Linked DNA regions of Homo sapiens: regions 2 and 3 are each reported to be linked to region 1. Evidence: microRNA targets listed by miRTarBase, many of them from high-throughput screens and not tested one by one. Region 1 holds a microRNA gene; each other region holds the end of a gene's coding sequence.
The links. Region 1 holds the annotated microRNA hsa-miR-4703-3p (UGUAGUUGUAUUGUAUUGCCAC, at 1,559-1,580, opposite strand). A microRNA usually pairs through its seed, bases 2 to 8, with sites in the 3' UTR of a target mRNA and lowers its output. Matches are read on the target gene's strand: a 7mer-m8 pairs with bases 2 to 8, a 7mer-A1 pairs with bases 2 to 7 and ends in A, and an 8mer does both.

Region 1 (4,360 bases):
CTAAGAACAAATCAAAGCTTTAGCTTTACAATTTTTATTTCTACAGTGTTCAATAAATATTTGTTGATTGACTGAATGAGTATTTTGCCATTAATTAGCTCTATAACCTTGGGCCAGTTTCATTTAATTTTTCTATGCCTCATTATTCTCATCTATATAATTGAGTTTGATTAAGTCATATTTTTCAAATTATTTTTATGGTTTAAACGCTTTCTTCAAAGCAAATCTTAAGGCCAGGTGTGGTGGCTCACGCCTGTAATCCCAGCACTCTGGGAGGCTGAGGCAGGCACATCACTTGAGGCCAGGAGTTCGAGATCAGCCTGGCTAACATTGTGAAAACCTGTCTCTATTAAAAATACAAAAATCAGCTGGGGGTGGTGGCACACATCTGTAATCCCAGCTAATCGGGAGACTGAGGCAGGAGAATCACTTGAACCCAAGAAGGGGAAGTTGTAGTGAGCCAAGATAGCATCACTGCACTCCAGCCTAGGCAATTGAGCAAGACTCTGTCTCAAAAAAAAAGGAAAAGAAAAAGAAAATCTTAAGCAGAATCTAGCATTTAAAGCAGAAAAAAGTGAGGCTGCTGTAGATGAAATAGGTTTTGGGGCCCTAAGACTCCTCTTTTCCCACCCCCATTTCTGCTCCTGAGCTGCTTTGCTGAACCCACAGGACCCTCTGAGGTACCATTTGTCCAAGCACTGGACTGAATAGAAATACAAATATAAATAGCATTGACTCTCAGACTTGTAAAAACAAAACAAAACAAAAAACTTATAGTCAACTGGATGCAGACAGTCCCAACCTGCAGCCTCTTAACTCTTAGGAATTAAGATTAACCACCCAGACAAATTAATCTGGTTTCTTTGCTTTGGAGGGTATTACATCAACTCAATCAATGTCAATCAATTTTGTAATGCTAAGCTGAATTGGAAATTATATATATATATTTTTGATAAATTAACAATGAACATGACTATATTAATAATAAACAATGAACATGAGAACATGAACAAACTACTAATGAATATATTTTAGTAGACACAATTTCTCAACATATGAAAATGGGGGGAGGAATAAAGGGGATCCTTGGGGAGTGAAAAGGTTCAGAATCACAATGAATTCCTTTTTCTTTCTTTTCATGCAAATAAAATGAGCCAGAGAAAAGTGAAATGGCTTGCCTAAGCCCTCACAGCTTACTTAGTGGCAGATTCTGCATTGGGACCTGGGACTTGTAATTTCCAGCCCAGTGCTCTTTCACTGACCATGTCGTTTCTTTATAAGGTTAGAACTTTACCTTTATGTTTCTGGAATCCCTGATCACCATGCTACAGAATGATAAAACATCCACATTATCTCAGCATTCATTATCTGAGTCCCTGAAGTCTGAAGCAGTATAGGAGACTAAAAGTCATCATAACCTAGAAACGTTTATTTATCAAATGACTGCTTATAAAAGCCACTCAGTCATATCCACTAAACATTAGCTTTGCTTCCTTCCTTCTAGGAGCAACTTTTTTGTTAGGTAGGTATCTAGCTGATGATTGGATTTTTATACAGAGTGGCAATACAATACAACTACAGTGCAAATCAAACACACTATATTTGTACTGTATTGCTAATATGCATAAAGCAAATCTCGCAAATGGTATAGGATTTTATGGGATTAATAAGAGGAAGCTGAATGCTTAGTCCACAGTGAAAGAGGGAGAAAAATATAGCTGATATTGTTATCGAGTAAAAGGGGCTCACTGTCCAATGCACTAGAAGCCCATACTATGACACCATGTTCTTGAGAAAAGAAAAGCTTTGTACTGAAAGTCAATCCCAAGGAGACAGAAGTCAAGCTCAAATCTGTCTCCCTGTGCTGCCTTCAAAACAGTATTTTTATTAGAAAAGTTTCAGGGGGTGGATTCTGAGATTAGCAGGTGATTGGTGGAAGGAAAGCAGAAGTCTGGAAAGTCCTTGGGCATGCTCAGTTATCTCTTCATGCTATCTCATGTATCACATGTGCAAATTCAGGGGGAGTTGGTATGAAACATAGGGTGGAAATTCAGGCTGCGTTGTCAGCAAGCTCCTTCTGCACCGACTCCAGTTGGTCATATTGGTTCCAAAGGATTTCAGCCATTTCTTTTATCTGATAAGCAGAGGGCATTTCAGCCTTTCAGTAGGTGTTTTTTTTTTTTTAATCTGTCATTCTGCAAACTCAAGAATTTGTTAGTCATTGGTTTCTTTAACTCTTTTGGGCATAGTTTCAGTATTGAAGAGTTAGACAAGGGCCAAATTAGGGAGGGCCTTATGGGTTTCATTAATGGTTTTCATCCTGATTGTCTTTTAAGCAGGAGAACTGTCATCAGATTCACCTCTAAAATTTTCATTTTGAAATTGGCAAATACACTAAAATATATAATCTAGCAATCGTATTTCTGTGATTCTATGTCATAGAGGCATATCCACTTGTAGAAACAACACATGTATCAGGTTATTTATTGTTGTATTATTTGTAAGAGCAAAAAATGGATCTGACTCCCATATTCAACAAAAGGGGCCTGGTTAAATAAACAATGGTATGACATGCAGCTGTCAAAACAAATAAGGAAGCTCTCTATGTAGTGATACATATGGAAAGAGCTTTAGGACATATGGCAAGGGAAAGAAAGCAAGATGTAGAACAGTGTATATGGTAGGCTATCTTTTGTGCAGTAAGGTGGGAGAAAATATATTTGAATATGCTTGTATTTGCCTTAAAAACCCTAGGAGGATTTTAAAAATATATGGGTGGAAGGGATATCATCGGAGGGTTGGGGTGAGAAGTGCAGGAGTGAACGCAAGACTTCTCTGAACATCTCTTTTTATAGTGTGTTAAATTTTGAACCTTGTCAATGTAGTACTTAATACAAACAAATCCATTTAAAAATCACTCTGGCAGCTCTATGGAGAGTGGATTGTAGGGAAATAGAGTAGAAGCTGGAGCCGATTTAGGAAGCCACTAAAGTAGTTCAGGCAATGGCTGAAGGTGGTTGGCACTTACTTGGAGGTAGCGGTGGAGCTGGTGAGAAATGGTGAGCTCAAGCTTGTGGAGCCAACTGGACTTGCTGGTGGATATAGTGTATGAGAGAAAAAAAGAAATAAAGAATAATTCCTAGATATTTGTCTTGAGCAACTGGAGGAGAAGAGAAGATAGAGTGAAGGTGGGAAGAAAATGCAAGGAAAACAGAATCGAGGGTTCTGTTTTGGACACATTTTTAATACTGGCATGCCTGTTAGGTGTCGAAGTGAACATATCTACAACTAGAGAAACATCAAGGAGGATAATGACAGCAGAGATGTTTCCAAAAATAATGAGTTCAAAATTAAAGGATTGAGAGGCCCTGGGAAAAGTTCATAAAATCCTTGAACGTTTTTGTCAAAATGTCCATCTTCACTATCATGCTGTACAAATAAAATATAAAGTGGAGAATGTCATTTGGGCTATTTTAAAATTTCATTGGAAAAATTACATCCCCAAATTCCAATCCATTTATTCTTAGTTCTAACAGGAAGTATGTAGATGTCATTATAGCTTACATTTTGTTACATATGAAGTATAATAAATATGATTTCACAGTTTGTATTGCATTTTTCAAGATAAAGCTTGAATGCAAGCTTTTTCACTATTTACTATAAAATGTAAGTGGCCTTTTTGATATCCTGAACAAAATGCAAAAGGACTGCTATAGTTTGAGTGTGTCCCCTCCAAAATTTGGGTGTTGAAACATAATGGCTCGTGATGGCATTAAGAGTTGGTGCCTTTAAAAGATGATTAGTCTATAGTCTCCTCCCTCAAGAATGGAATTAAGGAACTCATAAAAGAGGCTTCACTTAGCCTTTGGCCCTCTTGTCCTTCCCTTCAGAAGATGCAGCAACTTCTGCATTACCAGACACCAAACCCACCAGAGCCTTGATTTTGGACTTCTCAGCCTCTGGAATTGTGAAAAATAAACTTCTGTGCTTTATAAATTACAGGATAGAATCTTGCAGTGGCAAAAACACAGGGAAACAGATATAACAGAAACATTTTCTCTTCAACAGCAAGTTCACATCTTTATTAACAGAATAACTTTCTACATTTCCTAAATTCATGATGGCAGGAGGTGGAGAGTAACAATTTCTCTTACTTTACTGCCCTAGAAGTTAAATAAGTATTACTTGGTAAAAAATGCAAAACTGCTCTCTTAAGAATTCTGCCGTCAACTACTAATTTTTCTTTTGTGCATTTATCCTGAGTAGGACAGGCTTTGGAAATGTTCCAGTTAATACAAGCAGAGACTTACTGGTTGTAGTGTTTGCTGTGATGTCCAATGTGGTAGTCAGCTAGGGTGGC
Region 2 (4,000 bases), not on the chromosome of region 1:
TCAAATCCAACCCTCTCCTTAATCTCTATTTGCAAACCTCTCAGGCATCTCCAAGTTAAAATTTCAAAAGCAGAACTTATTTTAACTACTGCCCCTGAAACCTGCTTGTGTCACTGCCAGTCCAGTCACGATCCACCATTCGGCTGGCCCGTCACTAGAAGTCATTCTTGCCACCCGCTCCCCCACCCCGCTCCGCCCTGCCCCTGACATTCAGTTACCAAGTTCTGTCAGCTCTACCTCTGCCTGTTTTTCCACATCTATCTCTTACTACTGACACCCTAGTCCAGGACGCCATTTTCTTGCACCCAGACAGCCATTCTCCAGCCCTCTGCCACCAGTACATTCTCCACACACCAGCTACAGCGGTAGTTTAAATTATTTCATTCCCGTTTGCAGCCCTTCTGGTGGTCATCAGTTCTCTTCACGAATATTCCCACTCTGCTTTCTCCTTCTGGTACATGTTAGGTTTCTGAAGTTAGGTGGGGCATGTGACCTTCTTTGGTCAAGGAGATGGGAGCAAAAGTGGTATGTATCACTTCAGGCAGAAGCTTTAAGAGCCAACATGCACTTCACCTTTTTCTCTTCATCTGCCATGATGGTCATGATGTTCCAGGTAGTGGCTACTCCGTTAGTCTGGGTTCCAGACCTAGGATATGATGGCAAGATGAATATGTAGCCTAAGTAAGAAATAAACATCTGTAAAGCTATATTGTCAACAGCTCCTGACTTTACTAAGAATGAAATACAAAAAAAGCCTTACCGTAATGAACAAATCCCAATAAAACTAGCTTCTGTGTATCTATCCGATCTTATCTCGGGCCTATCCTTCCTGCTCACTATTCCACTCACACTGGCCCCCTTGCAATTTTTGGAACAAATCAAGCCTGTTTCCACCCTTTCATGCAATGTTCTTTGCATGGTTTGCTCCTTCTTAACCTTCAGATCTCAGCTTAAAAATTACTTCCTCAAAGACATCTCTTTTAACTACTTTATCAAGGTCCCTCGCTATGACTGCTTATCAGAGCACCCTAACCATTTCCTGCTGGGCACTTCATAGTCAATAATAATTGTCTCTTTGACTGACTGTCTCACCCATTAGAATGTAAGCACCTTGAGAAAAAGAGCTGACTAGTATCTCCAGTGAGATTATGCCTTCTATATAGTGCTCTGTACATGGTAGGCACTCAATAAATACTCGTTAAATGAACAAACGAAAGACTCCAAAAGTGGGACATAACACTACAAACATCATTATCATATATCACAGGAGCAAGTGGTGCTGCTAATGGTGAGAAGAGCAAGGGAACTCACATTTACTGAATGACTACCCTAAACTAGCAACTGCTATAGGTACTTTACATGTTATCTCTCCAGCTTCTCATAATCCTAGGAAGCCGATATTAGTATCTCCACTTTATCAATCGGGCAACTAAGACTTGATCTCTTCAACTAGCACAACTAGTAATGGCAGTTTTAACTCAAATTAAAACTTAATCTCCTTCCTCCAAACTATAATACCAGAAGGGGGAAAAAAATCAAACTATTTTATCACTAAGTACTTTTCTATCATGCACACAAATTACATCATATATGAATATAATCCTACTGTAAGAACCAGTTTTTGTTTTTCCTTTTAGTTTTTGAGGTTCATCCTAAAGCCTATTTCAGGTATCTCTTGTTATCTGGGACAAGTGAGGAAAGAATGATGCAGCAAATCCAAACTACAGAGAAATCAGACATTTTGTTGAAACTCTTTTCTTGAAGTCTTTTTCTTCTCAGAGTAAGAAGCTACTATGATTAGGAAGTAGGTCTGTGTTCTGAATTCATTTTATGGAACTTGGGATCAACTTCTATTGGCTTAATGTATCCTCTTGCCCTATCACCAAATGCTGTTCTGCTGGTCACAAAACATGCAAAGCTAAATGGTCTTAGGAGATCTGATCCATAGTCCTGACTATATCAGCAAGGGCTCCAAACACCTAAACAAATGATACCAGCTGGTTGTCTACCTCTGACCACCTATGGGTGAAGTAATGAGTAAACAACAGAAAGGTGGGGCCTGGGTAATTCCCAAACCATTCTACTGTGCTCTGAGGAAACTCACAGGATTCTGAGCAGAAGGGACCTTTGGGATCATCTACTTAAATCTCCTAATAGTTTAGCAAACAGGTCCAGGCAGGCAGTTATCTGCCTAAGAGAAGCAAGTCTCTTGGCTCCCAGTCAAGTGCTCTTTCTATTATACCACACTGCCTCCCCAATCAAAAACTAGTGATTATGTCCAGATAACATTCAGTTTATAAATCCCCCAACGTTTCTCTTTATTCTGCATTATCTAGAGAGCCCTGAGCAAGAACATACACAGTAAAAACAAGAGAGGCCAGAAAAAGTTATTTTAATTTTCTATTAAACATTCTTCTCAAAGCATTATTTTATCCTATATCTCACTGAATTTTAAGAAATAACATTAGTATTAGAAAAACTAGGAAAAAAGATAAATGCAGATAATTAAACTTACATGAAAAAGGAAAATTATAACAAAGGACTGAGAACGTTATAAATTGAAATGAGATTATAATTTGAAAACTGCATCTGAAAGCAAACTTTATTGTTCAATTATTCTTAATGATGGTGTTTTATGACTAATACACTGATTTTTCAATAAGGAAACCCATGTTAAAAATATTTTTATTTTAAAAATAAGCCTGTGTTCAAGCTCTGATCATATTTCTTTTATTTTGATTTGGGAAGAAAATACTGTTTCTGATAGCATGAAATGCAAAATTTTTAGATTTTTAATCTCACTAATTTTAAGAACTATTGAGAAATTGATTAATGACATGAAGTGCACAACACTAATTACTGGCCAGCTGTTGGCATTGTGTTTCTTACTTAGTTCTCCCAAGGAAAACTCTTAAACTGAATCTTCAGCAGAATAATCCTTAAATATACTTTGTAAGCAAAACAAAAGCTTTTTTGTTTACATAGTTCTTTGGATTTTACTGTTCCTAATTTTATTCTGAAACTCAATTTTACCCCAGACCATAATTACCATATTAACTTTGTAATGCACAGTTGTATGCAATTCCGCAAAGCAGTAGTATACCATCAGGCTCTATTCACCCAGAGCATAGGAAAAACAGGATTGGTCACACCCATTAAGAAACAAATCTATCCCACGCTATTTGCCAATGTGTAGTTTCAGTCTAAATTCTGACAATAAAATGTATGGATATATATCTATATATCTCATCTTGATTTTCAAAAGTAGCCAAAGGGAGTTCTTCAGAGCTTAGCGTTGCCTGGCTGAAGCTGAAGATTTTGTAACTTCATAGCGAGACCCATGTTGCCAGTGATTTTCAATTTGCCTTGAAAGAAGGCCTGTGAAGAAGAAAGAAAATTCATTACTTGGTGTTTTTTTGTTTTAAGATTGCTGATGTTTCTACACTATCTAGCCCTGAGATCATTTATTTATCCAGGTCACATGACTTTCTCTAAAATATGAAACTTGGCTTTCTGGAATAGATTTGGAACCACATTCTTCAAAAGGAAGAATTTGTAAAGGCCACACTTTTTGCAGATCAGCAGAAAGGAGCAGCTTTCCCAAATTTCTCATAGAAATTGAGCCTGTTTTCACCTGTCCTCCTCAAAGTGGGTTCATACTACACTGATTATGTTTTAAAACATTCCATGTAGGTGGGAAATATGAACTGAAATTTTTAGCAGGCTGCTGAGAGAAAAAGCATACACAAAAAACACAGAAACTCTTGGGATTCAATCCAACATGCATGTGAATGAAATGCCACCAATGATAAAGGACTTATCCCTACAGAGGGCACAGAGCCTGCTGAGAATGAGGTGCTTGTGTTACTCTTTGGCTCAACAAGAAAAATCAAACCAATCTGAAGTGCAGAGCCACAATTTGTTCCATTTAACAACTGCCTGGGATTAGATCACATGATGTTTGCTAAATTTACCATGTAACAAAATCCCAGGAAAACTT
Region 3 (4,360 bases), not on the chromosome of region 1:
ATGTTGAAATCTACCAAGGAAACAAACTAATCCTCGCAAAACTAGAGTCAGGTAGAGGACTGTTTTAAAAGAGTATTATGACATTTGCAATATTCAAGACATGTCAGCATTCAAGGACAAACTGTCATCAGCACCTGCCAGTATGACCTTCAGTTCACTTGGGCTCATTACGTTGTCTTTAGAAGACATGGCCATGTATTGGGGAGCTCCAAGTTACCATGAACACTTTGCCTCCCTTGACAATACCATACCATTATTAAAAGAAAACTCACTGTTGCACTGACCATGAAACTAGAGTTTAGACGAGACAGTGTTTCTCTCATTTGGATTGTGGCTTTAGTTTGTTTCCTGATGTTTAAGCTAAGTCTTGGCTATTAAAGTCAAAAGGAAAAATGGAAACATCCAAATAAATGCTTGAAAATCTGGTGGACCAGAATGCACAGAAAATTAACTTCAACTTAAAGAAAAAAAAAAAGATTATAGTCCTAGTTAGGATGGGCGACAGAGCGAGACTCCGTCTCAAACAAACAAACAAACAAATCACTACAATATATTTTGTTGATTAAATTTGAATTCTGTTGTCTGTATATATTGAAAACTTATTTTGGTTTATTACCACACAATGTAATGCTGCTTACCTGTTGATGCTTTTTTTTCTCTCCCAGACTTGGCTCTTCAAAACAAGTCTTAGGTAAGACAACAGACAAAGCAGGGCAAATTTGAGTATGTGCCGTTGTTTTCCTTCTATTTTTTTTCTTTTTGGTTTGAAAACATACATTTTATAGAATGGCATGATATAAACTATCCAAACACAAAACACACATGAACACATCAAATGACAGGTCATTTCCTTTTGCAGAAACTGGCTTAAAAAATTGATATTGAAATTTCATAGTTGAAAAAAATATTTCTGAATGTACAAATAAAGCAGCAGTTTTGAATAGAAACAGGAAGTTACCTAGGCACATTCATTAGCCACATGGTAGCTACCTCTTAGCCTCATTGTTGATTGTGTGAATGAGACTTTCTTTGTATCACATTAATACATGTTTTTGGTTATTTTTTCACAAAAATGAAAGAAAGTATGTTGGTTTCATATTCAAATGAATTATGCCCAGGATAATCCTTATTTATACAAAAAGAGTTTAGAGAGTGAAAAAGAGAAACAGAAAATATGGTTCTCATACATGTCTTTTTGTACCCCAAAAAACTTTGGGGCCCACTTTTCAAAGATAAAAACTTAAGTGCCACCTTTATAATGCATGGGAAGCTGAAGGATGGAACAAAAGACAGTATAAATCTAGCATTTTCTCTAAAGCATGAAAAACCATAATGGTGAGTGTGACCAGTTGGAATTTCTCTATAACGCACACTACATTTTCTTGGATACACTTTTGTCTCCAATGTGACCATAAATATATGGAGTCATTCTCTGATTTGGGCTTCCAGTGCATGGGGTTGCAAATAAGAGAACCAGAGTTTACAGAAATAGTAGAATATTGACAATTTCACATGAGTCAACCTTATTACTCATGTTGACCTAATGGGAATATGATTTACCTTTAAAACTTTTTAGTTTTTAAAAAGCCTACCCTGTTTTATAGTACACTTAAATACATTTCCCTGCTTCTTTTGGACTAAGACAGGCTCCTGTGACTGACTTAGTTTTTGAAAAGAGTTTCACCTATTTGATTCAAAGGATTCATTCAGAAAGCAATCTAGTGAATGGTTCACTTAACAAATTCTATTCCATTGTCCTTAATTTCAGGTAAAACTGTAAAGGTTGAACACATATCATCTCATGAATTAAAAATGTAGATATATTTTACAGGTGGGTCAATTTAATTCATTTTAGACAAAGTTTTGCATTGTTCTAAATGCAAGTATTCCTCCTTGGCTTAAATGATTGATCAAACCTAATTCTTTTGGTTCTTATTGATATAAATCATACTGTTCCTTGATTGTCAACTAGCATTTTAAGGACTTCCCTAAATTCCACCAATAGAATTCTCAATCTTATTGGTCCTACATGCCTCAAAGAATTAAACTGAAAGAAAAAGTTCTTTCGGCAACACCAATATACAAAAATACAGTGAAAACAGGCAAAAAGATGATACCCCCTCCCCATTTGCAAAACCAAGGTGACTATTCATGGTAGGTGATGACAAAGACAGAGGTGTAAAGACAAAACCCAGAGGTGTTGTAATTTAGAGGGAAGACTATTGTTCAAATACAATGAGACCTTTCCAGGAGACCACTCACCATTTCACAGAATATCCCTAAGCTTTTTTGACAAATGACCTTTCAGACCAGGTCCAGAAAGTGTCTTTAGCTGAAATTTCATATAAAGAATATTCCACCTGTTAAATAAGCATCTTGGTTTACTAGTGGCCATCAATACAGGTTTCACTATTCAAGACAGCTAGTGAGAAACCAGAAAAGCTCACAGAATTTAAAGCCACTTGGCTCTATGAATCAGTTCATATCCAGAACTCTTCATGCTGAAACTGCTAAACACAGCAGGTACAAGCTTCTGCTATCAATGAATACACATTTAAAGAAAAGAGAGACAACTCCCCCCACCCTCTTTTTTTTTTTGCACTATGTAAAACACCAGTGGAAGGTAGTTTAAACAAACAACAAAGAAAGAACTGGTCCGGCCATGTCGGTCAAATAAATTTTTTTTTTTTTAAAAAGAAAAGAAACGAAAACAACCTCTATCTTCTGGACTGTAATAGGGTGTCACTTCATCTTTGGTATAAAATAGGCCATCCATAGGCTGAATTTGATCACAACTAGGAAAGACTACAGAAATTGTCAACAATTTCTCTATCTATTGCTTTTTTTTTGTTTTTTTTTTTGCACTTTTTGACCATAAGCTCCTATCTACTTAAGTTTTTTTTTTTAATGCTCTTAAGCTAGGTTTTGCAATGTGACAAGCAAAGCTGACTAAAAACTTTGTAAAGCTCATAAAAAAGACTGCAGATAAAAAGCACTAATGCTTTTGCTAGCGATCACGCTTTGTAAATTAAAAAAATCTGCATTCTGCCCCCCAAACACGCATTATTTCTAATGCAGTTGTTTTTAAACCAACCTTAATAACTTTACTGTAAAATGTTTTAGCCTTTTAGAATGATTCATGTCAACACTTAAGACAAAGTTCATGAAAAGTCCCAGCATTTTTCCAATTCTTGCAGTTGCCATGGTTTATCAACAAATTTTCTTCAAATGAAGAAAAACATTTTCATTTAAACTGTACAGTTTTTTCTTCACCCTAAAAACTCATAGTCTTAAACTTCTGTGCCAGTGAAAGCCGGCACAGTATTTCAATTCTTTCTTGATTTTTGTTTTCAACAAGACGTTGACAGCTTGCCTCGAGAGCCTTTGACGTCCTTAAAATTAAGGCAATTAAGATTCAAGATAAACCTTACCTACATATTTCTAAGAAAAAATAAAATAAAAAACCCACTAGATTAAAACAAGAAGGGAAAAAGAGAAAGTAGCTTAATTATTGAGGAAGACAATTTGTTTCCATTTCTATTGCCCACCTCTTGACATCAGGTTTTCTGTTAAAAAAAAAAAAAAAGTATCTACACCTTCAGAAAAATTCTGAATTCAATTCAAATGTTCTTCCACATAAAATATCAACCTTCAATGTTTTGTTTTTTGTAGTTTTTTTTTCCTCTTCTGGAAATTTTTTCTTTAATTAAAAAAATGATGGCAAAAATAAATTGTCAGACCACATGAAGACCATTTGCACAGCACATAAAAACTTTGCTTTCATTGGGTAAGGTATAACACTAAAAAAAAAACAACAACAACAACAAAAAAATGCATTCCATTGACGTCTGTGCAAACTGGAAGCCAACTTCTTGTTCAATGAAGTTTCTTCATTCAAGGCAAAGATTCAGACAGACATTCTTCAGTCCTGTTTATGGTCTGTGAAAACAATTGAATAAGAGTGGTCATTAAATTAAAGTAACTTTGAAATCACCTTCTGTGCCCTTTTCCAATGAGGCAGCTTTAAAAGATACCAAGCTTTCAATGTAACATAGTCACAAAAGCATCATAAAATCATACTGAGTCTATGAGATTGTCAAATTCTGCCACTTTCATTTAAATACAGATTTGGGCCAGAGAGTTTGTTTACATTAAAAATCAAGGGTAATAGCTTATGTTATAGCTCCTTACAGATCCTTTGAGTAATTCTGTTCCTTCAAAACTACTATAGGAATCATCACTAATTCCAGCAACAAATATGAGATTCTTTACTATGCACCCAAAATAACTGGGTTGTATGTTATCTCATGGTATTCATCACGTACATTTACATAAGGCTTATTGCCTGAGGAAATAAGTG

Region 2: miRTarBase lists SCP2 as a target of hsa-miR-4703-3p. Seed matches in the 3' UTR shown: 7mer-A1 at 3,192-3,198.
Region 3: miRTarBase lists RBMS3 as a target of hsa-miR-4703-3p. Seed matches in the 3' UTR shown: 7mer-A1 at 3,668-3,674.

Annotation. Positions count from the first base shown.
Region 1 is chr13:51,549,857-51,554,216 of GRCh38, reverse strand. It overlaps MIR4703 (microRNA 4703), which reads right to left and starts at 1,628; the gene lies at 1,550-1,628. LOC124903175 (a long non-coding RNA gene) reads right to left here. Exons shown (of 4, transcript XR_007063804.1): 2 at 4,311-4,360; 3 at 3,029-3,092; 4 at 2,066-2,134.
Region 2 is chr1:53,049,987-53,053,986 of GRCh38, reverse strand. SCP2 (sterol carrier protein 2) reads right to left here. Exons shown (of 16, transcript NM_002979.5): 16 at 2,289-3,378. The coding sequence ends at 3,283. Among named protein-coding and RNA genes, the nearest start is that of PODN, 10 kb to the left of the region's middle.
Region 3 is chr3:30,003,435-30,007,794 of GRCh38, reverse strand. RBMS3 (RNA binding motif single stranded interacting protein 3) reads right to left here. Exons shown (of 15, transcript NM_001003793.3): 15 at 1-3,939. The coding sequence ends at 3,933. Among named protein-coding and RNA genes, the nearest start is that of RBMS3-AS1, 71 kb to the right of the region's middle.